Linked DNA regions of Homo sapiens. The protein of the gene in region 2 interacts with the protein of the main gene of each other region in a pairwise test. Each region holds a gene or a part of one and is shown on either strand. Other genes may lie near its edges. The genes, in order: TOR1AIP1, BRWD1, NRF1 and CHAT.

Region 1 (7,025 bases), on a different chromosome or scaffold from region 2:
ACCACCTAGCAAGGGAAAATGCTGCCAATTTTTTGGTAATTTGTAGTAATATGCCATAATTATATGATGCATCCCAATTTCAAAGATGTTAAAGTGTTTAAAAAAATTGTCAGAATCAATGTAACATGGAAGTAGGCTACATTTAATAGTTCACTTAAGTTTTAAAAGCTGATTAAAATATTTTAAAAAGCTGGAGAAGGGATCAAGTCCAGTTATTAATGCTTTGGGTTTTAGTTCCATTTAATTTTCAATTTGCTTTTTTTGATATTAGGAAAGTCTCACAATAATAAACAATCATAGCTGTTAAAACTGATAATCCTTGGTTTTTAGTACCCAGATCCTGACTTATTTACCTGTTTCTAATAAGATTATGCTTTATAATGTGAGCTATTGTATTCTAAACTTAGAATAAGTATGTCTGGTTCAAGTTGAGTTTCAAATAAAAACACCTTCATGCTAATTTTTTTTTCTTTTTTCTTTTTTGAGACAAAGTCTCGCTCTGTTGCTCAGGCTGGAGTGCAGTGGTGCCATCTCCACTCACTGCAACCTCCACCTCCCAGGTTCAAACAATTCTCCTGCCATAGCCTCCTGAGTAGCTGGGATTACAGGCGCCTGACACCACACCTGGCTAATTTTTGTATTTTTAGTAGACATAGGTTTTCACCATGTTGGCCAAGCTGGTCTCGAACTCCTGACCTCAGGTGATCCACCCGCCTTGGCCTCTCAAAGTGCTGGGATTATAGGCATCAGCCACCACGCCTGGCCTGTCCTATATTCCTTGAATAGTCTATGTTACTGTGTTAAGATTATAAACTATCTTAGAAAAATGCTTTGAATAATGATGATATAATCAGATTTTCTGGGCCATTTTGGAAAACCATAATCTTGAATTTATTTGCAGTAGATTTTATTGTATACCTGGGAAAGCAAAAATGTCTAATTTTAAATCTAGAGTAATTTATAAAAATTATGGAGTTAAGTAAATTGGTATAATGAAGACTACTGAGTGCTAGCCTCCGGACCATTATAAAACTATTAAGTAATAGAATGTCTTGAATAGTCTTTTTGGAGTTTATATTAGGCTCATATTTAAGAACTGCTAATGAGGTACACCATGGCTGCATGAGGTTGTGGCAAGAGCATTGGACCTCAGTGAAGTTACTCACTCATCTTGAGCCTTAGGCCTTTACCTGTGTTATTTGCCCTGCATAACTCACAGGGCCTCTGAAGAAATGAGATAGTACATTTGAAATCACTTTGTACCCGGTAAAACATGCAAGTGAGGTTTTTTTTTTCTCATAGCCCTTTACAAGAGATGTGAAGTTCATACAATTTTGCTTAAGTGTATCCTTTTTCTCAAGAAGCTTATGCTATAAATAGAAATTGAAAATGTTTACCAATATAAATGACAGATTAAATGGAATCTGCACATAGATTACCTGGACTGTATCAATAGCATACTGTGCCTTCAGTATTACTAGAAATAAGAGTATGTCTGTCTTTGAGAGGTTTGAGATACTCAGGGTTTTCTTCCTCTAAAAGGTGCTTTTATACTACATCTAATACTTGGCATATTCCCATCCCATGCCTCTTAATGAAAGGAGAGTTTAGGGAATTATTAAATGCTTATAAAGTCTAAGAGAAATTATTTAAATGGAGTCACTCTTTGATGGAGGACTGCTTTAAGTACAAGTTTAAGGTAAAGATAAGCCCTTCTTCCTCATAGAATGATAGACATTCAGTTTAACTTTGATATTCAAAATAGTGCTATAATTGTATATAAGGCTACCGGTGTGGTCTGACAGAAAATTATGCAAAGATGCCCTTACGAATAAAGACCTAGGCCCGGCATGGTGGCTCACGCCTGTAATCCCAGCACTTTGGGAGGCCAAGGTGGGCAGATCACGAGGTCAGGAGTTCGAGACCAGCCTGGCCAATATGGTGAAAACCCCATCTCTACTAAAAATACAAAAACTAGCCAGGCGTGGTGGTGGGCACCTGTAATCCCAGCTACTCGGGAGGCTGAGGCAGGAGAATCGCTTGAACGCGGGAGGCGGAGGTTGCAGTGAGCCGAGATCATGCCACTGCACTCCAGCCTGGGTGATGGAGCCAGAGTCCGTCTAAAAAAAAAAAATACCTAAACCAAAGGACCACCTTATAAAACAACATAGTAAAAATATCTACATCATTTGGTTATCTTGTTATTGGAAGACTTGAAAATGTTGATTAATTCAGAACAGGAATATAGTTTGAAATCTTCTCATTGTTTGAAATTCCATAATTGAGTTGTTTTCACTTAAAATAGCCGTTAGGTTGTTTAATCAATTCAGGTTATATATACCTACATAACAGTTATTCTCCTATGGCCAGATTCATTTCTTTCTGGAAATTATGACACTAATTTTATAATCCAAAAATATATTAGGACAAATTCTATTTACTTTTCCAGAAGTTAAATGGGTATTTTTGTTCTACTAGTGTGGTTTCTAGCTAAACAATCAGATAGTTGTTCTTAAATGCTTACTATTTTATCATGAACATTTGCTTCTCTAGCTGCTGTAGTTAGAGCATTCATTCTCCAGATAATTATTGAGCACCTACTTTGGGCCAGTCTCCATGCTTTGATTTGAGGGTGCAGTGGTGAACAAAAGCAGACAAGTGAGGAAGCCTCCTACCAAAGAAGGGTACTTGATATTTTGTTCTCTCATACCTCTCTCTGGTACCCTGTGTCTTTCAAGTACTTTACTTGGCTATGGGATATGTATATAGTAGCACATGCAGGAAATGCTTCTTAAATGAAAAGATGGGAACTGAAGTAGTGATTGATGTCTGTAGAGTCAGTTTGATTAAACATAGCTTAGTAAAAGCAGACAAACCAAAAACAGATTTTAGGTTTTAATTAAACCTGAAAAGGCTAGAAGTATAGAGAAGAAAAAGAGGAAGGTAGTTGTAATATGTGGAGTAACAGGAACTAAAATTTGCCTTTATTATCATGTGTGCAGGGTTTTTGTTTTTGTTTTAAAGAGACAGGGTCTCACTGTCACCCAGGCTGGCGTGCAGTGCAGTTATACTGCAGCCACAAACTCCTGGACTCAAGCTATCATCCTCCTGCCTTCGCCTCCCAAATAGCTGGGATTACAGGCACACACCACTATGCCCAGACAGGGTCTCAGTATGTTGCCTAGGCTGGCAAGATTTATTTTTTAAAGATATCGATATAAGTTCTAAATACTTGATGTGTGAAATACTGAGATAGATATTTCATAGAATTTTAGAGCTGGAATATTTAAGGGGATCATCAAAGTTCCAGAATGTGTTTTTTGCAACTCAGAGCTAAGACATAATGCTTTTTTATACAGATGAATGAAACAAAACATAATAGAATCCAAATTTTGATAAATATTTGGTTTTAGAACATGTTATGTGAGGTACTTGGAGAAAACATACTTTTATAGGTGGTTTTCTAGACTAAAATTAACATTTTAATAGGATCGGCTTCTCCGCTATCCCTATGCCATTGAACTATAGATGGTCTAAAATAAACCCTGGCCCACATTAATGTTTTTATTTAAAATTAATTTGCATTTCTTCAACACAAGGTTAAATAGAATGAGCGTATTGAATCTCAGGATGTTAACCCTAAAATTAAAATATTCCATAAATAATCCACAATGAGGGTCAGTCACAAATGGAATAGATAATTGAGTTGGTACCATAATACAGATTTTGGTTCTTAATTGAGCAATTTAGAAGAATTTTATTTAGTATTTCTTTCCTTCCTACAGCTACGGTTTGCTGAGAAAAAATGCAAATTTCTCCATCAAGACTATAAATTTTATATGGCAGGAAACTTGTCTCTAGTTCACTATCATCACTAGTTCGCAACAGTTGTCACTTAGAAAGCTTGTCTCTACTTCTCTAGCGTAAATAAAAGCTCTGTAAACCTTTGTTGAATAAATAAGGGATGATCATGTAATAAAGCTAGTATGTTTCACATTTTATATATTTTTAAATGTTTTCTCTTCCTATATTAGCAGTGAGTGAAGATCTTGTAATCAGGTTACGTCGACCCCCTCTAAGATACCCAAGATATGGTAAGAGATTGTTTGTCTGTTGGTTTACCTTTGTTATAAATACAGTTTTATTTTTAAATATGGTTGTACATGTATTCATATGATTCAGAACTTAAAAGTTACTGTAAATATACATTAAAAAATCTCCCTGTCCCCTCTGTCATTCAGCCAGCCAGTCTCTCTTCATCAAAAGCAACCAATGTTGTCAGTTTATATTTTTTGGAGATTTACAGAAATTCATGGATGAAATTATCTTGTCCTTTTTATAATACAAATTTTGGCTTTATAAACTCTCATTTCTGTCTTTTTTTTTTTTTTTAATTTGAGACAAGATCTCGCTCTGTCATCCAGGCTGGAGTGCAGTGGCACAACCAGGGCTGACTGCAGTCTCAATCTCTCTGGCTCAAGCAGTCCTCCTGCCTTAGCCTGCCAAGTAGCTGAGACTATGCATCCACCACCACGCCTGGCTGATTTTTGTATCTTTTGTAGAGATGGGGTTTTGCCATGTTACCCACATGATCTCAAACGCCTGGGTAAGTGATCCACCCACCTCAGCCTCCCAGAGTGCTGGGATTACAGGCATGAGCCACGGCACCTGGCTTACTTTTCTGCACTTTCTTGTTTATTTTTACTTAACATATATACAGAGATATTTCTATATTCATATATAAAAAGCTTCCTTTTTTAAAGAGATTGTTTCTTATATATTCCTGTGATTCTTTATGATGATTTTAAACTATGGTCAGGGACTTTATTCTTCCAGTATACTGCTAACAAAAAATTCAAGCTGGAGCTCTGTGGCACAGAACGACAAAATGTCCCTCCCTCAGTTATCTTTTTGACTAAAACGATTAAAAGTATTGCCCTGAAATTGATTTCATGACTATGAAGAAAACTAGTAAAGACACTCCAAGCAGTCTACTTTTACTTCATTTTCCTTGTTTTTTTGGCTCTTAAAGATGCTTTATCATGGGAACTAAAAAGGAAATGTATTTATCTTTATATTAGGCTTCTGTACCTTCCCATTCTCTTTATCAAAGAATGATGTTGATTTATTTCGATAGATAGTTGACTATCCTTTTAAGTATTCCAGTGGTAAAGATCTACTAAGGTTTTGTTAATGAACCTGTGGTAAAGAACCATATGATGCATTTCCTTTTCAACCCTAATCATTCTCTTGCTATGTCTCTTGCAGATTCGACATACAAAACAAATAGAAATACTAAAATGAGTGAATTATGTTCGTTTATTTCTATTCTTTTTTTTTTCCAGGCAGGGTCTCACTCTCACCCAGGCTGGAGTGCGGTGGCGTGATCTTGGCTCACTGCAGCCTCCTCCTCCTATTGTAGTCCCAGCTACTCTGGAGGCTCAACTGAGCCTCCTACTTCAGCCTCTGGAGTAGCTGGAACTACAGTCATGCATCACCATGCCTGGCTGATTCCTGTGTTTTTTATAGAGATGGGGTTTCACCATGTTGCCCAGGCTAGTCTCGAATTCCTGGGCTCTAGCAATCCACCCGCTTTGGCCTCCCAAAGTGCTGGGATTATTGGCATGCACAACTGCGCCCAACCCTATCTCTAATTCTTACAAGGTCTCTTTGAGGGTCCAGATTAATAGAATACAAGAGTATATATATCTAGTCATTGGCTTGAGAATACTAATTTATTATGTCAGTTTGTGGGGACCCAGTCCCTATGACTAGGACCTCCCATAAACAGCCTTGGTTTTTGTTGTCTATAATTATGCCTATATTATTGCTTAAATTCATATAAAAACATGTAATCAATTTAGTCCTGCTAGTCTTCATTAAATTCACACTATTAGGAAAAAGGAGATAACAACTTACCAATTAAGGTTTTTCTCTTGATTTATTTTTTGTTTTTGTTTTTCTGAGACAGAGCCTTGCTCTGTCACCCAGGCTGTAGTACCGTGGTGCGATCTCGGCTCACTGCAACGTCTGCCTCCCAGGTTCAAGCAATTCTCCTGCCTCAGCCTCCCAAGTAGCTGGGATTACAGGTGCCCACCACCACGCCCAGCTACTTGTTTTGTATTTTTAGTAGAGACAGGGTTTCACCATGTTGGCCAGGCTGGTTTCAAACTCCCTGACCTTGTGATCTACCCCACTTGGCCTCCCAAAGTGCTGGGATTACAGGCATGAGCCACCACGCCCGGCCTTTCTCCTTGATTTTTATTTTTATTTTTTATTTTTATTTATTTATTTATTTTTATTTTCTCGAGACAGGCTCTTGCTCTATCACCGAGGCTGGAGTGCAATGGCGTGATCTTGGCCCACTGCAACTTCTGCCTCCCTGGTTCAAGTGATTCTCCTGCCTCAGCCTTTCAAGCAGCTGGGATTACAGATGACCACCATGACACCCAGCTAATTTTTGTATATTTAGTAGAGATGGGGTTTCACCATGTTGGTCAGGCTGGTCTCGAACTCCTGACCTCAAGCAATCCACCTGCCTCGGCCTCCCAGAGTTTTGGGATTGTAGGCGTGAGCCACCACACCTGGCCCTTTCTTCATTTAGAAAGTGAATTCGATACGTTGTTCACGGCGAGTTCAGTGTCCTTTGCTGTAATACGTTCGTTGAACGGGTTTTAATTCATTTCAGTGTCTGCCTGGCTATAGGACATGACATACCATGATTTGTGGTTTTAAATGAATCTACATTGAATGTTGTTAGACTTAGTTTTTTTTACATTTTAATTATTTTCTAAATTTGAAGATGAGCCAAAAGGGAAACGCTTCATTTTTCTTTATAAATCATTGTACCTTCCTCTAATTCATCTTTCACTTAAGTTCAGGCCACTTCTTTAGAGACTTAAAAAAGCTTTTTAGGCTGGGTGTGGTGGCTCACGCCTATAATCCCAGCACTTTGGGAGGCTGAGGTGGGCAGATCACCTGAGGTCAGGAGTTCAAGACCAGCCTGGCTGGCATGGCAAAACCCC
Region 2 (7,459 bases):
CTTAGTTCCTCATTCTTTTTTGAGACAGGGTCTCGCTCTGTTGCCCAGGCTGGAGCACAGTGGTACCACCATAGCTTGTGACAGCCTTAAACTCCTGGGCTCAAGTGATCTCCTGCCTCAGTCTCCCCAAATAGCTCAAACTACAGTCACCCAACACCATGCATGGACTAAGTTTTTAATTTTTTGTAGAGAGAGGGTCTCACTATGTTTAAGACCAGCCTTGAACTCCTGGGCTCATGCGGTCCTCCTGCCTTGGTCTTCCAAAGTGCTGATAGCACAGACGAGAGCCACTACGCCCAGACTAGTTTCCTCATTCTTAAAATGGGAATAACAGAATCTAAGAGTTGCCTGCGGTAAATGAGATTACACACGTACTTATCACGTGGGCTTCCAAATGTCAGCTCTCTGATGCGCTAGCTGTGCAATCCTGTGTAAGTCTCCTAATTTTCAGGTCCCATTTCCTCTTTTGTGAAACGTGGCCAAGGGAGAATGGACTTTGCAGTGTTTGTGTTTCAGTCTAAGATAATACTGTCTACTTGGGATTGCAGTCCAGCCACCACTTACCAGCTATATGCCCTTGGGCCATACTTCCTCTGCGCCTCAGCTTGAGCCTATCAATGACATCTAAGAGCTGTTTATCCAGTCAGGAGTTGCTTGCCACGGCATAAGATGTTGGTTCCCTTGAAAATGCAACCCTATAGCTTAATGTCACCCACTGTTAAGATTTTCCAACACTTGCTTACCATGTAGCTTTCTTGTGGTGAAACTCTAAAGTTATTTCCATTTACCCAAAAGCAAACCTCAGTGTGTACATATGGAATGGCTGGGATTGAATTGTGTGAGGAATACACAGATTCTTGCCTTGTTTGGAGACCACTTCTGGTGGGTACCCACTAAGGAGTTGCTCCTGGACAGTGTATTTCTTTTTCCTCCTCCTGGCAGGCAAATATGAGTCACATCTGAGTCTCTTGACATATGGGAGTCGAATCGGGAAGATATTCTCTCTCTTGTTAGAAATCTTTGTTCCTATTCAAAATTTAGAAAGAATATTTGTCATGAATGTGATAGTAAGTTGTAAAAGGACTCCCAAGGCTCTTGTAAAGGAAAACTCATGTCATCGTGTCTTTTTTTTGAGACAGGGTCTTGCTCTGCTGCCTAGGCTGGAGAGCAGTGCTGTGATCATGGGTCACTGCAGCGTCAATCCCCCCCGGCTCTAGCCATTCTCATGCCTCAGCCTCTTAAGTAGCTGGGGCTACAGGTACACACCTACCACCCCTGGCTATTTTTTATTTCTTGTAGAGATGGGGTCTTACTATGTTACTCAGGCTGGTCTCGAACTCCTGGGCTCAAGCAGTCCTCTGGCCTTGGCCTCCCAAAGCGCTGGGATTACAGGTGTGAGCCACTGTGTCTGGGCTCGTGTCATCATTTCTGATCTCTTGTAATGGTTATCATGGTGCCAGTATCAGAACGATAATTTTGGACAATGACCAGAGCTTGGGATATAAATTCTTGTAATATCTTTAGGGGGTTTTTAATCTTACGCCCTTGTTACAAAATGAAATGCACAACTCCTTGGTCAATCATTGAAAGTTTAAATTCTCCCCTCTTGATGTCTTTGTCATTTGGTAACACTGGTAATCTTGCAGCATCAGATCACTGTCCCACAGTCATCTATGCACTGTAACTTCAAATAATCAAGTTGTTGCAAGCAGTTACTCATCTTAACAATCTAGCTACCAGCCTGTATGCCCTACCTTATTTGTTGGCACAACCTTGGAAAGCCCCAAACGAGATTTTTGTGGTTTTTATTTCACCCCAACTTCATCTTGCAGATTTACTGTCCTACATACTTCTGATCTTGTCTCTTCTCTATCCTTATGACCAACGCCCTCATGCATCATTTCTTTTCTATTTCAGGGGTATGTTAAGTGCCTCTTGGTCTTAACTTTCTCAAATCCATCCTAAAATAGAAAATGATTCCTTCCTGGCTTAGAATCTTTCAATTGCTCCCAATTTCAACTTCTGACATCATGGTCCCATCCTCTCCAAAGTCACCCCAAGTAGTCATACTAAACTTCTGGTTCCTTAAACTAGAAATCATATTCATGTCTTGGCCCTCTGTTGTTTGTATGTGCGAAATCCCTTTCCACACATTGTAGCCTGGATAACCCAAACTTCCCTAACATTTCCCCCACGCACAGGCAAGCTGATCTTCTGATATATCTCTGCCCTAAATCGTGTCATTATTTGCTTACATCTGTTTCCCCTAAGAGACGCTGAAGTCTTTGATGGCAAAGCTGTGGCTCATTCCTTTTTTTTTTTTAATCTCCATCACTTGTTAGTGCTTGCTGAATTAACAGATGTAAGGAGTTAACTTACTGTTGCACTAGCTCAAACATATTTAGATTGTTACCTCACAAATAGCTTTTTTTTTTTGGAGACGGAGTCTCGCCTTGTCGCCCAGGCTGGAGTGCAGTGGCGCGATCTCGGTTCACTGCAGCCTCCGCCTCCGGGGTTCAAGCGATTCTCCTGCCTCAGCCTCTCAAGTAGCTGGGACTAGAGGCGCGCACTGCCACACCTGGCTAATTTTTTTATTTTTAGTAGAGACGGGGGTTTCACTATGTTGGCCAGGATGGTCTTGATTTCCTGACCTCGTGATCCGCCTGCCTCGGCCTCCCAAAGTGCTTGGGACTACAGGCGTGAGCCACCATACCCGACAGCCTCACAGATATCTATGTCCATTTATAAATATATATAAAAGCTTTTGGCCAGGCGCAGTGGCTCATGCATGTAATCCCCAGCACTTCGGGAGGCCAAGGCGGGTGGATCACCTGAGGCCAGGAGTTCGAGACCAGCCTGGCCAACATGGTGAAACCCGTCCCTACTAAAAATATAAAAATATAAAAATTAGCCGGACGTGGTGGCGCTTGCCTGCAATTCCAGCTACTCGGGAGGCTGAGGCACAAGAATCGCTGGAACCCGGGAGGCAGAGGTTGCAGTGAGGTGAGATCGCGCCACTGCACTCCAGCCTGAGAGCAAGACCCTGTCTCAAAATAAATAAAAGCTTTTGCTATTTGGTGTAAATAAAAGCCAACTTGTACACGGTGCTTACTGTATACCAGGAACACAAATTCATTAAATCCTCACAACTTTGAGACAGGCACAAATATTATCTGTTTACTAGTGAGGAATTACCTACGGTTTACTAGTAAGGAACACTGAGACCCACAGGTTGTGACTTGCTCAAGGTCAAGCTGGTGGAGCCAAGACAAGGTGCAGGCAGTGAGTCCTGCCCTAGAGTCTGACCCGAACCACATTTAACGTCTATGTGGTGTGTAGGTTATTGCCATGAGTAAGAATCAGAATTGTTAACGCGCATTCCAGGAAGGCAGGGACACCACTGAGTGTTACTGCTGTACTTTAGGGGCCAGAGCAGGGCAGGCTGGATGCGCGGAGGAAACTCATAGTTAGGTCAGAAGCCTGGCAAGACAAGGGAATTTTCTGGTCGTCGTCCACCTCTCCAACCTCACATCCTACTAGTCTTCCAAGAGGATTCTAACTGCACATGACTCCCTAGTTTCCGGCTTCTCTTCCTAAGGAGGGTCTGCGGCCCGTCTGCACCACCCTCTCCCCACAGTCCCGTTTTCCTGTCCATGCTTGGATGGATCCAGCCGAGCCGTCAGCCGCAGCTGCGCGCTGCTCCCCCGACTCGCACCCCCTCGGCGAAGCGCTGCATTTTATGTAATTTTCTGCCGGGCTGCTGGCTTGTGGGGGATGTGGCTGGGTCTCGGCAGCCTTCAGCGCCGCAGACGCTCCGGCAACGCCAGCATACGAGGCCCCCGCCCCAGGAGCGCGGGTCCGGGCGGCGTTCCCCTCTGCGGGAGGCGCGGCGAGCCAATCCTCACTTTAAAAGCTTTCCTGTCCTCGAAGCGAGGGGTCTTCCGTGCGGGGCAAGACGCACTGGCCCCAGACGACCGGTCCGTGAAATGACCCTTCCGAGCGACCCGGAGCGGGCGACCTTGCCCAACCCGCGACTCGGGGCCCCTGCGGTCCCGCGTAGAGGACCCAGGTCCCACGGGGGGCGGCGGTGAATCGCCCCCTCTTGTGGCCGCGCTTCCGCCCCCGGCACCCGCCCGCTGCTGGGCCACCCGGCGTCGCGCTGCCGCCTCACAAAGCCCGGGCAGCCGCCTCATTGCGCGCAGGGATTCGGACCACGCGCCCTCCCCTCCCCCACTCGCTGCTGCGGCGCCCAGGTCTTTGCCTCCGCGTCACTTTCTCCTCATCGAGTCCCCGGAGGCAGAGAGCTGAGCGAGGTTCGCCTCCCCGGGCGGGACACGAGCTCCGGTCCTCTCTTGGCGCAAACCCCCGCCCCCCGCGGAGGGACTACTTTTCGTCTCCCGCGGAGGAACTACTTCCTCCCCCGCGGAGGCGTCGGTCCAGGCGGCGCGCACGGTATGGCGGCGGCGGCGGCGGCGGCGGCGCGCGCCTGAGAAGAGGGGACGCCAGCCCGGTCAGGCCTCGGCGCGGCCTACACGCTCCGCTCGCTCGCTCGCTCCCGCCTCCCGCCCCGCGCCCGGCCATGGCGGAGCCGTCGTCCGCCCGACGCCCGGTGCCTCTCATCGAGTCGGGTAAGACGCGAGGCCGTGCCACCCCCGCCCTGGCGCTCCCGGCTGCTTCGGCTTCCCCGGCTCCCCGGGCTCCCCCGGCTCCCCTGGCCCCGTCCCCCTCCCCTCCCCGCCGGGGCTTGACCTGACTCCTTGTCTTCCCGCAGAGCTGTACTTCCTTATCGCCCGGTACCTATCGGCGGGCCCGTGTCGGAGAGCGGCCCAGGTGAGTGCGGGCCCGCGGGCGGCTGCGGACTTGGCGTCCCCAGTGTCCCCGCCGCCGGGGGTCGCGGGTGGTGGGCGGGGGTGAAACGGGAGCGCCCCGGGCCCGACCCCACCCCTGACCGCGCGTCTCTCGGCCGCAGGTGCTGGTGCAGGAGCTGGAGCAGTACCAGGTCTGTGCGCGCCCGTCCCCGCGCTCCCTCGGGTTCCTCCTGCCGACCTTGCCCTGAGGGATGCTCGCCCGCGCCCCCCGCCCGCCGCCCGCCGCCCGCCCCCGGCCCCCCGCCCCCCGCCCCCCCCGCGCCGGAGGGGTGGTCACTCGTGTGCGTTTCGTGTCTTTCCAGTTGTTGCCGAAGAGATTGGACTGGGAGGGCAACGAGCACAACAGGAGCTACGAGGAGTTGGTGAGCATTGGGCACGTTTGCTCCCCGGGTTTTCCGTGCACCGCCCCCCGCCCCCGCCCCTTCCCCTCGCGGGGACCCCGGCCCGTGGGGTGCAAAGTGTGACCCGCACTGGGGGGCGGCCCGGGGATAGCTGCGTTCCCGGCTGAAGATTTTGTTTTGTTTTTGAGGCGGCCAGGTTTGTTTTGGCAGGAAACAGTCATTGGGGGCGGCGCGGGGCGGAGCGGTGGGGGCGACTCGCGGAGGTCCTGCGGCAGGGGTGGGGCTCCAGGTGCGGCCGCCTCTGCGGGGGTGTGGCGTGCGCAGCCAGCCATTCAACTGGGCGGTTTCATTCGCTTCCCCGCTCCACCGCGCTTGTAACTCGCGCTCTGATTGGCCTCGCTGCTCTTGCCCCGCCCGGGTCTGTCCCCCCACTTGTTCCCTAGGAATAGAATCATTGGTCTCTGAAGGTGGAGAAATGTTCTTGTGTTGAGCTTTTTATTTTTTGTTTTGTCAGCAGCGTCATAAAAATCTTGCAGCTGTATGAATATGCCACTGTAGTGCTTGTGCTCCTTTCTACTGTACAATATTTGTTGAACGCAGTAGTTGATTGATGAGTTTCACACTGATCTTGTAGATAACACAATAAAGTGCTTTAAATAGGCACTTTTCTTTTGAGCTCGGTTAATCTTGCATTACAGTCTCATTTCTTTTGTGAACTTGGTTAATGTTTCTATATAACTTGCTTTTATCTATAGTTACAGCAGTTGCAGGGATTCGTTTGTTTTTACTGGAGACATTTTTCAGGAATATATTTTTGCCGTTTCGTTATTAGGATAAAGGAATTCATTAATTGCCAGGCCATATTCAGCATCTTGTATAAGGAAAACAATTGAGAAAGAAAAGAGCTTCTGAGTGATCTTTTACCACAGTTGGAAGACCTGTAACACTTGAGTGGTAGAGTATGGTGGCAAGTGAAAAGAAGAAAAAAAAGTGGTAGAAGATTACTGGTTTTGAATTAGACAACAGAAGAGACCAGAGGATGTGTTATTTCCATGAACAGTTAACACTTGAAGCCTGGTGCAAGTAATAAATAATTTTAATATTTGCTTTCTTAGATTTTGAAGTAAACACTTTAACAGTGGATGTTTTCAAGGGAATGAGTTCTAAAAATTCTGATGGCAATGTGTTGAGTTTGACATTTTGAGATAGTTTATTTTTGTAAACGTTGAGGAAACATTTAAAGGATGCCCTCTTTTAGTTTTCTTCACGGATAATATAGCCTTATCGGTGAAGCGGAAAAGCATTACTGGTTATGACGCTGTTGTCGTGCTACCTGAGAGAAAATAACTTGAAACAAATGTAGTGCTGTAACTACTGGAAAAGTTACTTTTAAAATACATTTATAGGGGCTGGGTGCAGTGGCTCATGGCTGCAATCTCAGCACATTAGGAGGCCGAGGTGGGAGGATCACTTGAGGCCAGGAGTTCAGACCAACTCTTGTCTCCACAAAGAATAAGTAACAGAAAATTAGGCGGCTGTGGTGGTGCGTGCCTGTAGTCCCAGCTATTTCGGAGGCTGAGGCGGAAGGATCACTTGACTCTGGGAGTTTGAGGCTGCATTGAACTATCCTCCTGCCACTGCATTCCAGCCTGGGAGATGGAGCAAGGCCTAGTTTCTTTTTTTTAAAAAAAAAATTTATATAAATTTTTTGGCTTTTGTTGGTAGAATTGCTTAAAACCCTACTTACTATTGTTTAAAATCACTTAAATTCTGTGATAATATGGCTGTGATTTGGCTATGACATATGGCATCTATCATTGCCTCCCTGATTTGGTCTGTCTGGTGGGTGTCCTTTCTTTTTTTACCTTCCTCTCTGCCCTCCAGTCCCCCAGGACTGAGTGATGATGAGCCTCATGTGTAGAGAATTATTCTTTTGTTAATGGTATATGTATCGTTTCTAAACTTTCAAAGTCTTTTAAAAATACCTTATTAAGAAGTATTCCAGGCCAGCTGCGGTGCTAACACCTGTAATCCCAGCACTTTGGCAGGACGCTTGAGGCCAGGAGTTCTAGACCTGCCTAAAGTGAGGTTGAGGATGTAGTGAGCCCTGATCAAGCCACTGTGCTCCAGCCTAGGTGAGCGAGACCCTGTCTCGAAACGCAACAACAAAAAAGAAGTATTTCAGATGTACACAAATGAGAATAATGTAATGCACCGCTGTATATCATCAAATTTGAATAATAATAATTT
Region 3 (7,025 bases), on a different chromosome or scaffold from region 2:
ACAGGCGCCCACCACCACGCCTGGCTAATTTTTTTGTATTTTTAATAGAGACAGGGTTTTGCCATGTTGGCCAGGCTGGTCTCGAACTCCTGACCTCAGATGATCCACCTGCCTGGGCCTCCCAAAGTGCTGGGACTACAGGCACTTGCCGCCATGCCCTCAAGAAGCAGTTTTATAAGCAGAAAGACCAATTTGAATTTTTGGGAAAAAAGTTATTTGACTCTCACTCGTCTTTGACATACAAAGAAAATGTTAAGTATTTCACTTATTTACTAAGTGTTCTTATGTTCACAAGGCCAAATGCTAGTCACTGAGCTATCTTAAGTATGTTTTTATTGTTATATTTGAATGTCTTTTTATTATTAAGGGTATCTGTTGTTTTGTGATCTGAGGTATAAAATTAGTACAGCGAATTTCCATCAAAATGGTTTCACGTAAGAACACCACTCTGTCATTTTTATGTCACATTTGCATGGTGCTTCCCATTTCCTGTGACTTGGTGTGGCACGGTAAGTAGTGAAATTGGAATTTTGTCAAGGTTCCTCTGCTCTTGAATAAAATATCTCTTAGTTTAAACATTGTGTTATATTACACACTGAATCCTGTTCTTTTTCTTTTTTGTCTGACAGTAGAACTTCATGGAGGAACACGGAGTGACCCAAACCGAACATATGGCTACCATAGAAGCACATGCAGTGGCCCAGCAAGTGCAGCAGGTCCATGTGGCTACTTACACCGAGCATAGTATGCTGAGTGCTGATGAAGACTCGCCTTCTTCTCCCGAGGACACCTCTTACGATGACTCAGATATACTCAACTCCACAGCAGCTGATGAGGTGACAGCTCATCTGGCAGCTGCAGGTAGTGTTGTTTGGATTAGAAGCTCTTCTTTAATTTTTTTTTTTTTTTTTTTGGAGACAGCGTCTCACTCTGTTGCTCAGGCTGGGGTGCAGCAGCACAATCATGATTCACTGCAGCCTTGATCTTCCGGGTTCAAGTGATTCTCCCATCTCAGCCTCTGGAGTAGCTGGGACTGCTGATGTGTACCACCACATCTGGCTAATTTTTGTATATTTTGTAGAGACAGAAATGTCACTGTGTTACCCAGGTTGGCCTCAAAGTCCTGGGCTCAAGCGATCCTTCTGCCTCGGCCTCCTAAATTATTGGCATTACGGGTGTGAGTTACTATGCCTGGCCTTTATCACAACTTTTTTAAGCCTTGCAGTTATAACTTGAGCCTGTATTATACTGAGACTTGAGGTCTGTAATCACTTACTATCAGTGTTATGGCTTTGGTTTTATTTTTTCATCTATTCTGCCTATGTTTTGGCTTTAAACTGAAGCATTTATTCCAATTACGTTAAACAGAATCACTGACATGTATTTAGATTTAAATTTACCTTCTTTTCTATATGCTTTCTCTTTGCCCTACCTGTTCTGTTTACTTTTCTCTTTCTTGGCGTTTTCTTTTGTAGTGATTGAAAATTTTGTATTTTTTCATTTTTTTCTTGTTAGTTTGAAAGTTATAAGCTTTTACTATTATCAATACCTGTAGAAATTGTAACATACATCCTTTATTTATCAATGCCTTATGTTGACTAGGCTCAGTGGCTCACACCTGTAATCCCAGCACTTTGGGAGGCCAAGGTGGGAGGATCACTTGAGCCCAGGAGTTTGAGACCAGCCTGGGCAATGTAGTGCAATCCCATCTCTACCAAAAAAAAATTAGCTGGGTGTGGTGACGTGCTCCCTAGTCCCAGCTACTTGGGAGGCTGTGGTGGGATGACTGATCACTTGAGCCCAGGTGTTTGAGGGTGCAGTGAGCTATGATTACACCACTGCACTACAGCGTGAGTGACAGAGTGAGAGCCTGTGTCCAGTTGAAAAAAAAAAAAAAAAGGAAAAGCAAAACGTTGTATGTACTTGGAACTTTTAACCTCTACAGGGATAATACAAATTTCTTAGAACACTTGCATTTCATGCGCCCATCCTATATGCTATTGTTGTCCTTTGTATTCATTTTTGGTATACAGTTGGCTCTCTTTATCTGTGGGCTCCACATCTGCACATTCAACCAATTTTGATCAAAAGTATTAGGAAAAAATTAAAAGTAACAATATAACAATTAAAAATAATACAAATAAAAGGCCAATACAACAACTATTTGTATAGCATTTACACTGTATTAGGTATTATAATATTAGTATTAGTAACCTAGAAATGATACAGAAGGACGTGAATAGGTCATGTGAAACTACTACACCATTTTATATCAGGGACTTGAGCATCTACACATCAAGATGCTAGAAACAATCTCAAGAGGATTTGAAGGGACAACTGTATTTTAAACACCACAGGACTTTTTTTTTTTTTTTTTTTTTTTGAGATGGAGTCTCACTCTGTCGCCCAGGCTGGAGTGCAGTGGCACAATCTTGGCTCACTGCAGCTTCTGCCTCCTGGGTTGGAGCAACTCTCCTGTCTCAGCCTCCCGAGTAGCTGGGATTACAGGTGTGCGTCACCATGCCCAGCTAATTTTTGTGTTTTTAGTAGAGATGGGGTTTCACCCTGTTGGCCAGGCCGGTCTTGAATTCCTGACCTCGGGTGATCCACCCATCTCGGCCTCCCAGAGTGCTGGGATTATAGGCGTGAGCCACCGCATCCAGCGAACAATATTTTTATTTAAAAAATAATGTTAATTTTTTTTCCTGCATCTCCAACTGGTCTCCTGAGATGGTTTTACTTCTGCCTAAAGACACCATTTAATATTTGCTTTAACATGGATCTGCTAGTAACAAGTTCTATTTTTGCTTGTCTGTGAATGTTTTTACTTAAACTTCAACCTTGAAGGATGTTTTCACTGAGTATGGAATTCTAGCTTGGTGGTTATTCTTTCCTCATGTTGAAGGTACTGTTCCACTGTCTTCTGGATTCCATTGCTGCTATTGAGAATTCAGCTATTTCATTCTAACCGCTACTCTTTCAAAGATTATCTCCCACATGGCCTGCCCCCCTCTCCCGGAAATTTTAGCCATGAGATTTTGCTTCTGCTGCATTCCATCTCTTTTCATTCCATGGCTCCAGTTACTTATGTTAGTCTTCCTCACTTGTATGTCTCTTAACCATCTGTTCTGTATGTATCATCTTTCTGTGTAGTTTCTTCTGTCTTTCAGCTTGTGAAAGACAGAAGATTTTCTTCTTTAGCTGTTGTATTAGTCCATTTTCATGCTGCTGATAAGAGATACCCAAGACTGGGAAGAAAGAGGTTTTAATGGACTTACAGTTCCACCTGGCTAGGGAGGCCTCACAATCATGGTGGAAGGCAAGGAAGAGCAGGTCGCATCTTACATGGATGACAGCAGGCAAAAAGAGAGAGAGCTTGTGCAGGGAAACTCCTCCTTTTAAAACCATCAGATCTTGTGAGACTTATTCACTATCACAAGAACAGCATGGGAAAGATCTGCCCCCATGATTCAATTACCTCCCACCGGGTCCTTCCCACAACATGTGGGAATTATGAGAGTACAATTCAAGATGAGATTTGAGTGGGGACATAGAGCCAAACCATATTATTCCACCCCTGGCCCCTCCCAAATTTCATGTCCTCACATTTCAAAACCAATCATGCCTTTCTAACAGTCCCCCAAAGTCTTAACTCATTTCAGCATTAACTTAAAAGTCCACAGTCCAAATTCTCATCTGAGACAAGGCAAGTCCCTCTGCCTATGAGCCTGTAAAATCAAAAGCAAGTTAGTTACTTCCTAGATACAGTGGGGGTACAGGGATTGGGTAAATACAGGCATTCCAAGTGGGAGAAATTGGCCAAATAAAAGGGCTACAGGCCCCATGCAAGTCCGAAATCCAGCAGGGCCGTCAAATCTTAAAGCTCCAAAATGATCTCCTTTGATTCCATGTCTCACATCCAGGTCATGCTGATACAAGAGGTGGGGTCCCATGGTCTTGGACAGCTCTGCCCCCTGTGGCTTTGCAGGGTACAGCCTCCCTCCCAGCTGCTTTCATGGGCTGTTGTTGAGTGTCTGTGGCTTTTCCAGGCAAAAGATGCAAGCTGTCGGTGGATCTACTATTCTGGGGGCTGGAGGACAGTGGCCCTCTTCTCACAGCTCTACTAGGCAGTGCCCCCGAAGGGACTCTGTGTGAGGTCTCCGACCCAACCCCACATTTCCCTTACACACTGTACTTGCAGAGGTTCTCTATGAGGGTCCCGCCCCTGCAGCAAACTTCTGCCTGGATATCCAGGAGTTTTCATACATCCTCTGAAATCCAGGCATAGGTTCCCAAACTCCAATCCTTGACTTCTGTACACTTGCAGGCTCAACACCTTTGTGGAAGCTGCTAAGGCTTGGGGCTTGCAGCCCCTGAAGCCATGGCCCGAGCTCTGTGTTGGCCCCTTTCAGCCACAGCTGGAGCAGCTGGGATACAGGGCACCAAGCCCCTAGGCTGTGCCCAGCACAGGGACCCTGGGCCCAGCCCTTGAAACCTCCTAGGTCTCCAGGCCTATGATGGGAGGGGCTACTGTGAAGACCTCTGACATGCCCTGGAGACATTTTTTCCATTGTCTTGGGGATTAACATTCGTCTCCTTGTTGCTTATGCAAATTTCTGCAGCCAGCTTGAAGTTTTCCTCAGAAAATGGGATTTTCTTTTCTGTTGCATTATCAGGCTGCAAATTTTCCAAACTTTCATGTTTTCCTTCCCTTATAAAACAATGCCTTTAACAGCACCCAAGTCACCTCTTGAATGCTTTGCTGCTTAGAAATTTCTTCTGCCAGATACCCTAAATCATCTCTCTCAAGTTCAAAGTTCCACAAATCTCTAGGGCAGGGGCAAAATGCCACCAGTCTCTTTGCCGAAGCATAACAAGAGTCACCTTTGCTCCAGTTCCCAACAAGTTTCTTATTTCCACCTGAGACCACATCAACCTGGACTTTATTGTCCATATCACTATCAGCATTTTGGGCAAAGCCATTCATCAAGTCTCTTGGAAGTTCCAAACTTTCCTACATTTTCCCGTCTTCTTTTGAGCCCTCCAAACTGTTCCAACCCCAGCCTATTACCCAGTTCCAAAGTCACTTCCACATTTTTAGGTATCTTTTCAGCAGCACCCCACTCCTGGTACCAATTTACTATATTAGTCCATTTTCATGCTGCTGATAAGGACATACTCAAGACTGGGAAGAAAAGAGGTTTCGGTGGACTTACAGATCTATGTGGCTGGGGAGGCCTCACAACCATGGCAGAAGGCAAGGAGGAGCAAGTCATGTCTTACATGGATAACAGCAGTCAAAGAGTGAGAGAGCTTGTGCAGTGGAATTCCTCTTTTTTTAAACCCCCAGACCTAATGAGACTTATTCACTATCACAAGAACAGCACCGGAAAGACCTGCCCGCATGATTCAGTTACCTCCCACTAGGTTCCTCCCACAACATGTGGGAGTTATGAGAGTACAATTCAAGATGAGATTTGGGTGGGGACACAGCCAAACCATATCAGCTGTGTTTAAGGTGCCTTTTTTATGTTCTCTTTTCTTTGTTTTTTCTTTATTTATTAAGGTGCTTCTAAATCTGTTCATTGACTTATTAATTTTGGTAATTGTTAATAGTTTAACCAAAACTACTAACCAAGTGTTTTTTTTCCTCCAGTTTTAGAATTTCTAGTGTGTGTGTGTGTGTGTGTGTGTGTGTGTGTGTGTGTGTTTCCTCCGAGATTTGCACTGAACGGTTTCCAATAGTGGAAAAAAATTTCTTTTAAACAAATAATTTTATAATTTACCTGGTAATTCTCTCTCAAGTTTCTGTTACATGTTGTTAATGTCATTTCTTGTTCACGTTGGCTCTTTTCTTGGTGTACTATTATATTTCAATGAATACTGGATGCTGTGTTTGGAAAATTATTTCTAGAAATAATTTGGGGTCTAGTATAATGTTATCTTCCTCTAGAGAGGATTTTTGTTTGCTTCTGCGAGATGCCCGAGGGCACTAGCAATCCTGGATCATCTTAATCCAATTTAAGGTTTATTTATTTATTTATTTATTTATTTTAGTATTTATTGATCATTCTTGGGTGTTTCTCAGAGAGGGGGATGTGGCAGGGTCATAGGATAATAGTGGAGAGAAGGTCAGCAGATAAACACGAGAACAAAGGTCTCTGGTTTTCCTAGGCAGAGGTCCCTGCGGCCTTCGGCCCTGTTTGTGTCCCTGGGTACTTGAGATTAGGGAGTGGTGATGACTCTTAACGAGCATGCTGTCTTCAAGCATCTGTTTAACAAAGCACATCTTGCACCGCCCTTAATCCATTTAACCCTGAGTGGACACAGCACATGTTTCAGAGAGCATGGGGTTGGGGGTAAGTTAAAGATTAACAGCATCCCAAGGCAGAAGAATTTTTCTTAGTACAGAACAAAATGGAGTCTCCTATGTCTACTTCTTTCTACACAGACACAGTACAAATCTGACCTCTCTTCCTTTTCCCCACATTTCCCCCTTTTCTTTTCGACAAAACCGCCATCGTCATCATGGCCCGCTCTCGATGGTCGCTGTCTCTTCGGAGCTGTTGGGTACACTTCCCAGACGGGGCGGCCGAGCAGAGGCGCTCCCCACTTCCCAGACGGGGTGGCCGGGCAGAGGCGCACCTCACTTCCCAGACGGGGTGGTGGCCGGACAGAGGCGCTCCTCACCTCCCAGACGGGGTGGCGGCCGGGCAGAGGCGCTCCTCACATCCCAGACAATGGGCGGCCGAGCAGAGGTGCTCCTCACCTCCCAGACGGGGCGGCCGGGCAGAGGCGCTCCCCACCTCCCAGACGGGGTGGCCGGGCAGAGGGCTGCTCACATCCCAGACGATGGGCGGCCAGGCAGAGACGCTCCTCACTTCCTAGACGGGGTGGCGGCTGGGCAGAGGCGCTCCTCACTTCCCAGACGGGGCGGGCGGGCAGAGGGGCTCCTCACATCCCAGACGATGGGCGGCCAGGCAGAGACGCTGCTCACTTCCTAGACGGGGTGGCGGGCGGGCAGA
Region 4 (7,025 bases), on a different chromosome or scaffold from region 2:
CGTGCTAAAGCCTCCCAAGGGCTTTCACTGCACCAAGAATAAGGCGATAGCTCCTCTCCACTGCCACTGGAGCCCCACAGGACCTGGCCTGCCCACCTCTCTGGCCCTGTCTTCACTGGGCCTCAGCCCCACTGGCTTCTCTCTGCCTTTGATCAGTGCTTCTCAAGCTGCCTCTGGGGAAGAACCAATATATTTTCTTTCATTTTGTAAAATTTGTGAAAAACAACAAAAAATTGATTACTAGAAAAACGGTATGAAATATGAGACCAAATGTTTTATTACAGGATTCAACAGACATAAAACTCCCATCACATTGCTACAAACATTTCTGGGTTCAGGCATTACACCAAGTCATGGGTCAGTCACAGCAGTTCAGTGCAATACTCATACTTTGAGTTGCAGTGCTTTGGGACACTTCACCCTTAGGGCTCAGCTCAATCAACCTGCCTCAGTGAGACTGCCCCTGGTCACCACCTCCTGTCCCTGCCAACACTCTGTCTCACTACCTGACAGTCTCCTGTTCACTGGTTTGCTGCTTGTGGTCTACTCCCTACCTACACATCCTAGGACTTACACCCCAGTAGAGCAGGAGCTGCATGTCTTATTTGCTGCCATATCCCCACATCCCAGAATGGTGCCTGGCCTATACGGAGGACGTGCTTCACAAATATTTGTTGGCTGAAAGAGTGGAAGGAAGGAAGGATGGATGGACGGATGGATGGATGGATGGATGGATGGAAAGATGGATGGATGGTGGATAGATGGGTGGATGGTGGATGGATGGGTCGATGGAAGGATGGATGGATGCTTGGTGGATGGATGGGTGGATGCAAGGATAGATGGATGGTGGATAGATGTGTGGATGGTGGATAGATGAGTGGGTGGTGGGTGGAAGGAGGGATGGATGTTTCGTGGTAGAAGTATGGTAGATGTATGGATATATGGATGGATGATGGATAGATGGATGGGTGGATGGATGGAAGAAAGGGAGGGAGAAAGGAAGGATAGGCACAAGGCATGCTGAGACCAGAGGGAAAAAGAACTTCCTGCATTGACCTCAGAAGAGGCTTCTAAAAGAGATGATAAAGGAGTAGGCTCTTGAAGGAGGGGAAGGAGTTTTCTGAATAGAACAGTTGAGTTCTGGGGTTGGGGCAAAGGCACGCCGAGAGAAGATCAGCATAAGCAAAGATGCAGAAGGCTAACTGGCAGGCTTTGCACATGCCGTGCATGAGGCAGAGGTTTGAGAAAACTCTGAGGGTCTCCACGTGTTGTGGAAATGGGGCCTCCACTACTTTAAAAAGTGGAGAATTGAGCTCTGCATCTGCCATGATGATGCAGTTCTGGGTTCTGTGCCCCATTTTGCCTGATCAAGTTACAATAAAACCCATTCTCTGTCTCCCCTCACCACCCACCATCCCCTCGTGGCTGCCTCCCTTCCCACTCCTCTCCTTCAGCCACTCCATTCCCACTGACTGTGCCAAAGGCCAGCTGTCAGGGCAGCCCCTTTGCATGAAGCAATACTATGGGCTCTTCTCCTCCTACCGGCTCCCCGGCCATACCCAGGACACGCTGGTGGCTCAGAACAGCAGCATCATGCCGGAGCCTGAGCACGTCATCGTAGCCTGCTGCAATCAGGTAAGCAACCCCTTGTCTTGGTGAGGGAGGGCACAGAGCATACAGTGGCCATGCGTTCACGTCCATTACCTTCTCCGAGGGGGCTCAGCCTCCTTCCCTGAGTCACACAGGGAGCTGGGGCACCATGTCTCCAAAGTGGGGCCCCTACTTCCAGTCAGTCCCATGTCTCTCCACCAGTTGCCTTCTAAGAATGAGAGCCGTCAGTTTGAGAATATCCTCACTGGACTCTCACTTCAGCACTGATGCACTGAGGGTCATGATCGAGACCTCCACCTGTACATCTGTTCTTTTCCATGCAGTCACCCAGGCTCTGGCCTTTCTGGAGACCACACACAGACAGACAGTGTTACAGACTGACAAATAGGACCTTTCATGTGTCAGCCTGTGGGCTCAGCACTTAACATGCATTCATCCCACTTAATCCTCACAGTGACCATGCAGAGGGGGCCTTAGGATCTCTGTGTGACAGTTGAGGACATGAGACTCAGACAAGTTAAGTGGTCTGTCCAAGAGTGGGAAGGAATCCTGGGTCTGGCCAGTGCCCTAAGGTCATGCTCTACCCCCTGCAGCTCAGGTCCTCAGACTGGGTTCCACAGAGCCAACAAGGACCCATGGGTCCTGGGGGACAGGCTGAGCATGAGGGCTCCTGACCTCTTCCCTGTGCCCACTGCACTATATATTCCATATATTGAGCTTCACATAAATATTTCCTCTGACAAACAGTTTTGTTTTTGTTTTTGCTTTGCTAAAACCCAAGTTTGGCAACCATCCCAGGGACTCCCCTGGTACTTGCTCTACAATGTGATCCTGGGCTCTCCTCACATTTTTAGTAAGTTGGGAGCTCTGTGGAGCCCTGACATCTGAGGGCAGCTGTGACCTCTGTTCCTAGATTTGAAGGCCATCTAGGAGCTCTCGCAGCCCACCTGACACCTTGGCCATAGACCAAGGACGTTTCCCCATCTTCATTCAAAAGTCAAGCCAAGTATTTCCCAGCTCCCACAGGCCACCGTATCCACCTCTTCCAGACATGCTCTGGGCCCCTGCACAAGACCAGGCCATACAGACACTGCTAGGGGGTTGGAGGGGAAGGGAAAACAAGGTACTCATGTCAATCAGCTGAAAAGTGTATCTTGACCTGGGTCTAGGAATAGACCCTTCACAAAGCCCAAGGCTCTAGCCTTCAAAGCTACAAAATGACAAAACCACAGGGCTGACATACAAAGCACATGTAGGTATACATGTGAAGGTGCACACACATGCACACATGTGTAGGTGCACATGCACGCATGGTGTGTGTTGGTTTTCCATTTTAATCTTCCTCTGCATATGATTGCTGGCTTGCTTTTTTTCCTCCACTCACCAGTGTGTTTAAGGCCCATCACTGTGGCTCTATCTGTTGCTAATTCACTCTTTTCAATGGCTGGGTAGACATGCCCTAGACATATACACCACATTTCACTTAGCCATTCCCCTTCTGGAGAACAGTGAGGCTCTTGCTACCATTTTGCTGTTGCAAACAAGGCCGAGAGGCACATTCCTCGTGTCTTCCGGTACACACGGGTACGTTTCTCTAAGCCTCAGGCTAAAATATGCATTTATAAGTGCAATTGCTTAGTCATAGGTATGCACATTTTTAGTTTTGATAGACACTGCCCTCCAACAGTAGCTGTGCCAATTTATATTCCATTCCCCACAAACATAATGGATTCCGTGAACCATGAAACACATTTTCTTTTGGCTAAGTTTAATGTTGCCTTCTTTGATTGGGGGCAGCGTGGAATCCAGCACAGTCAACAGCCTTGGCTTGGTCCCTAAACTGAGACTAGAACCACCAAACACCTTGGGAACCTTGGGCCTGAGCATCCCTGCCCCAAGCTTACCTGTGAAGGCTGAGTGAAGGCCTGGTGCCACGGGCCACCCAACAAGTGACATGTTTGACCTGTTTACCCCACAGTTCTTTGTCTTGGATGTTGTCATTAATTTCCGCCGTCTCAGTGAGGGGGATCTGTTCACTCAGTTGAGAAAGATAGTCAAAATGGCTTCCAACGAGGACGAGCGTTTGCCTCCAATTGGCCTGCTGACGTCTGACGGGAGGAGCGAGTGGGCCGAGGCCAGGACGGTCCTCGTGAAAGGTCAGCCGCAGTGCCCAGCACATCTCCATGCCCATCTCATGCTCGTGCCCATTGGCTTTCCCTCCTCTAGGGTTGGGCCAGGGCCTCATCCCCATCAGCCATAGTGTGGGAGCTCAGGGCCCACAGCATGCCCTGCGGCCAGCCACAGTGCCTTGCCACCGAAGCCACCTTTTGTGCCCTCGTGTTCCATCTGACAGTATCTGGCTTTCTTGGTGGGACTAACTAGTGCTGGAATTGGGGATGTCTGAGAATACTGGGCGGGGCGGGGGAGTTAGCTGGAGGAAGGCTGGCTGCAAGTGAGCAGGTGTGTTTTCCTGGTGGGTGGCGCTCACTGATAGTGGCTGGGGGAGTCGCTGAATGGGGGTGTGGGATGGAGCCTGCCTCTGGGAAAGTGGTTCACCACCTCTTTCACCTGATCTCTCCATCCTGGGACTCTTCATCTTCAAGCTGTCCCTTATCTTGTGGCACTGTTCTGATGAAAGTCTCCAAGCATTCCCATAAGAAAGCCAGGAATATTCTTGAAAATTTTTCATCACCCTTCTGGAAACTACTTTCAAATCCAAAGCTGGTCCTATTCCAGGAGCTGATGGAATGCTCTCCTTCCTTGCCCATGTTAGAGACACTGGATGAGAAGCAAGACTTCTGTGAGTCTTTATTTACCCCTCAGAATTTTACTGGGTCAGGCAATCTATTCAGACTCTCCACATCTGTTACTGAGGGCCCTGGGCTTGGCTCAGGGAGTATGGGAGACAAAGGAGTTGAGGCCTCTACCCAAGAGCAGCCCCATGATGGGAACAGGAAGAGGGGGCATGGGGAGGAGACTCACATCCAGGTGCATGCAGTGCTGACCCACTTCAGACAGGCGTCAAAAACGTGCTCCAGGACTTCAGAGAGGGGACGGAGCCCTTCCGAGTGGGATTGTGAAAGGCTCTGTTAGAAGAGGTGGGAATGGAACAAAGCCCCATGGCATGAGTGAGAAAGGCTGGAGGGAAGGATGGTACCCAGGCAGGCAGACCAACCCTGGGCAAAGCCCGAGGCCCAGCAGGGACACACCCACCTTACCCCCAGGGTGAGGAGGAGAATAGCTGCCCAGCAAAGGTGGCCTGAGCCGGATGTACTGGGCCTATTTTTTCTAACAGCCACTTGCATTTTCTGGTCTCTCTCTAGAAGGGTCTTCCCCCAGATCCAGCTGGCTCCTTGCCGCACGCAGAGCTCAGCCCAGGTGTCCGGCCTCAGGCCTGCCTTGGGCATCCTTCCCGCACACTCTGTCACTGTGGCCCGTTCGCTTACCTTGACTCTGTTGCTCACTCTCTGAGGACAACTTTGCATTTGTTTGATAAATGCTGATTATCTGCCTTTCCCCCCACCTCCTACCCACTGCCTATAAGGTCAGAAGGACAGGGGCCTTGTCTGTTTGGTTTAATTTCTGAGAAACACAGTCTGGGCCCAGTTACATTTATTAAATAAAAGAGTGAAGGGTGATTAAAAATGCCAGGCCCCAGACTTATTCCCCGACTTACCAATTAATTATTCTTTCATCCAATTATTGGGCACCTCCTGAATGCTGTCATAAATAGGGGGCTGCAGGAGCCAAAGAGGGGTGTGAGAGCTGACTGCCCTCCCGGACCTAACCTCGTGCTGGAGAATTAATAACTTAGCATTCCGCAGTGAGTTAATTCCCTCGGGAGACCATGGTGTAATCAAATCCCACTCTTCTCCCCTTCAGGGACAGAGACAGGCATCAAAATAATCGCCTCTGCCTCCAGCATAGTTTCCACTTTATTAGCAGGCCAGGCCCAAGACACGCCCTTCAGGGCTGGCTGGATTGCCCCAAGGTCTGAGCACTTGGGCTGCAGATCAGAATTGATTTGTTAATGGCACTTGATCTGGCTTTCTGAATGGAAGTGCTGTTTCTGAGGGAAATGCGACAGAAAGGAGGGGACACATGCGCCTCCCCTTGGGTAATCCGATTAATCCAGTTAGCGCCAACTGTGTCATCTACACAACAGGAAACTGATCCTTCACAGATCCCCCCTCCCCAGAGCAGCCCTGCCTATGGAACAGAAACAGAGAGACCATTTACAAAATGATTTCGGTTTCCCAGTGAAAGAGTATGGCAGCTTGGGACAGGGTTGAGAGTGAAGATGGAGAGACCAGTGACGTCAAGGCCATTGAAAGCGAGAACAATTCCTGGGCTTTTTATCCGAGCCGTGAGTGGATGTTAGTGCCATTTAGTAAGATGGGAAACAGGGTCGGGGAGTGGGTACAGGATGGAGAAATCATTGCCACACATGTTGGGTTAGAGGTGCTTGGGTCATCTGGGTGGAGACGTCAAGCTTAATATATATGTTTGGAGCCCAAGGGAGAGGTCAGTACAGAGCAATAAATTTGAGGGACATCAGCGCATAAATGATCCTTAAAGTCATGGACCTGGGTGAGATAATCTAGAAACAGAAGAACAGGGAGCCTGGAGGTCAGGTAGAGAAGGATGCAAAGGGGATTGAGAAAGAGTAGCCCATGAAGTAAAGGAAAGCCAGAAGAGTCACAAAGATTCAAGACAGAGGGAACGGCCAGCCACATGGAATGCTGTGGAGAGCTGGAGGAGGAACAGGACACAGGGGACCCGGCTTGGCAACCCTGAAGTTGTCACTGGGCTTACTGAGGGTCAGACTGGAGTAGCAGGAGAACAAATGCTTGCACACTGACAGAAGTGATCCAACAGCAGAAAGAAATTGTCGATGAGGCAGTCAGTGAGTTGAACCAGTGAGTATGGTCGACTTTTTCTCAGACATTTTGACACTAAAAGGAGCAGAAAAATGAGGGAGTTGCTAAAAGAGGATGAGGGTCAAGGGAGGTGTTTTTAGGAGGAGAGACAAATGTATGGAAGGAATTTAGTAAAAGAAATTGATGAAGAGATAGGAGATGAATGGAGGGGTGGAATTCTTGCAAAGGCAAAAGGAGATAGAACTCAGAAAATAAGAGGCCTTTGGTTGGTACAGGGTGAAGTGGAAAGCTTGGGCCTGAGGCAGCAGAGGTAGGAGCATGCAGAGGCTCCCAACTGGTACCTCCTGGTCTCAGATCACAACCTTGAGATAAGAGGCGGGCAGTTGGATGTTGAAGATGAAATCGACTGTGTGAAATAGCCTCCTGGAAAGTGGGAAAGAAGACTTGAAAAACTTGATAAGATTTATGGACTGTGTTGAGCTCATATATGAAGGTTCAAAGTGATACATTTTAGGAGAGGCTAATTAACATTGT

The links.
Region 1: the proteins of BRWD1 (region 2) and TOR1AIP1 interact in binary tests that used the Homo sapiens proteins (3 or more experiments, as listed by UniProt).
Region 3: the proteins of BRWD1 (region 2) and NRF1 interact in binary tests that used the Homo sapiens proteins (3 or more experiments, as listed by UniProt).
Region 4: the proteins of BRWD1 (region 2) and CHAT interact in binary tests that used the Homo sapiens proteins (3 or more experiments, as listed by UniProt).

Annotation. Positions count from the first base shown.
Region 1 is NC_000001.11:179,885,276-179,892,300, forward strand, and holds part of TOR1AIP1 (torsin-1A-interacting protein 1), read left to right. Parts: intron 1-4,034; coding exon of another isoform or gene 4,035-4,037; coding exon 4,038-4,094; intron 4,095-7,025. UniProt on the Homo sapiens protein: Required for nuclear membrane integrity. Induces TOR1A and TOR1B ATPase activity and is required for their location on the nuclear membrane. Binds to A- and B-type lamins. Possible role in membrane attachment and assembly of the nuclear lamina.
Region 2 is NC_000021.9:39,310,612-39,318,070, reverse strand, and holds the start of BRWD1 (bromodomain and WD repeat-containing protein 1), read left to right. Parts: upstream 1-4,438; 5' UTR 4,439-4,579; coding exon 4,580-4,628; intron 4,629-4,771; coding exon 4,772-4,830; intron 4,831-4,969; coding exon 4,970-4,999; intron 5,000-5,170; coding exon 5,171-5,230; intron 5,231-7,459. UniProt on the Homo sapiens protein: May be a transcriptional activator. May be involved in chromatin remodeling. Plays a role in the regulation of cell morphology and cytoskeletal organization. Required in the control of cell shape.
Region 3 is NC_000007.14:129,656,714-129,663,738, forward strand, and holds part of NRF1 (nuclear respiratory factor 1), read left to right. Parts: intron 1-629; exon of another isoform or gene 630-632; 5' UTR 633-638; coding exon 639-861; intron 862-7,025. UniProt on the Homo sapiens protein: Transcription factor that activates the expression of the EIF2S1 (EIF2-alpha) gene. Links the transcriptional modulation of key metabolic genes to cellular growth and development.
Region 4 is NC_000010.11:49,624,019-49,631,043, forward strand, and holds part of CHAT (choline O-acetyltransferase), read left to right. Parts: intron 1-1,454; coding exon 1,455-1,635; intron 1,636-3,589; coding exon 3,590-3,767; intron 3,768-7,025. UniProt on the Homo sapiens protein: Catalyzes the reversible synthesis of acetylcholine (ACh) from acetyl CoA and choline at cholinergic synapses.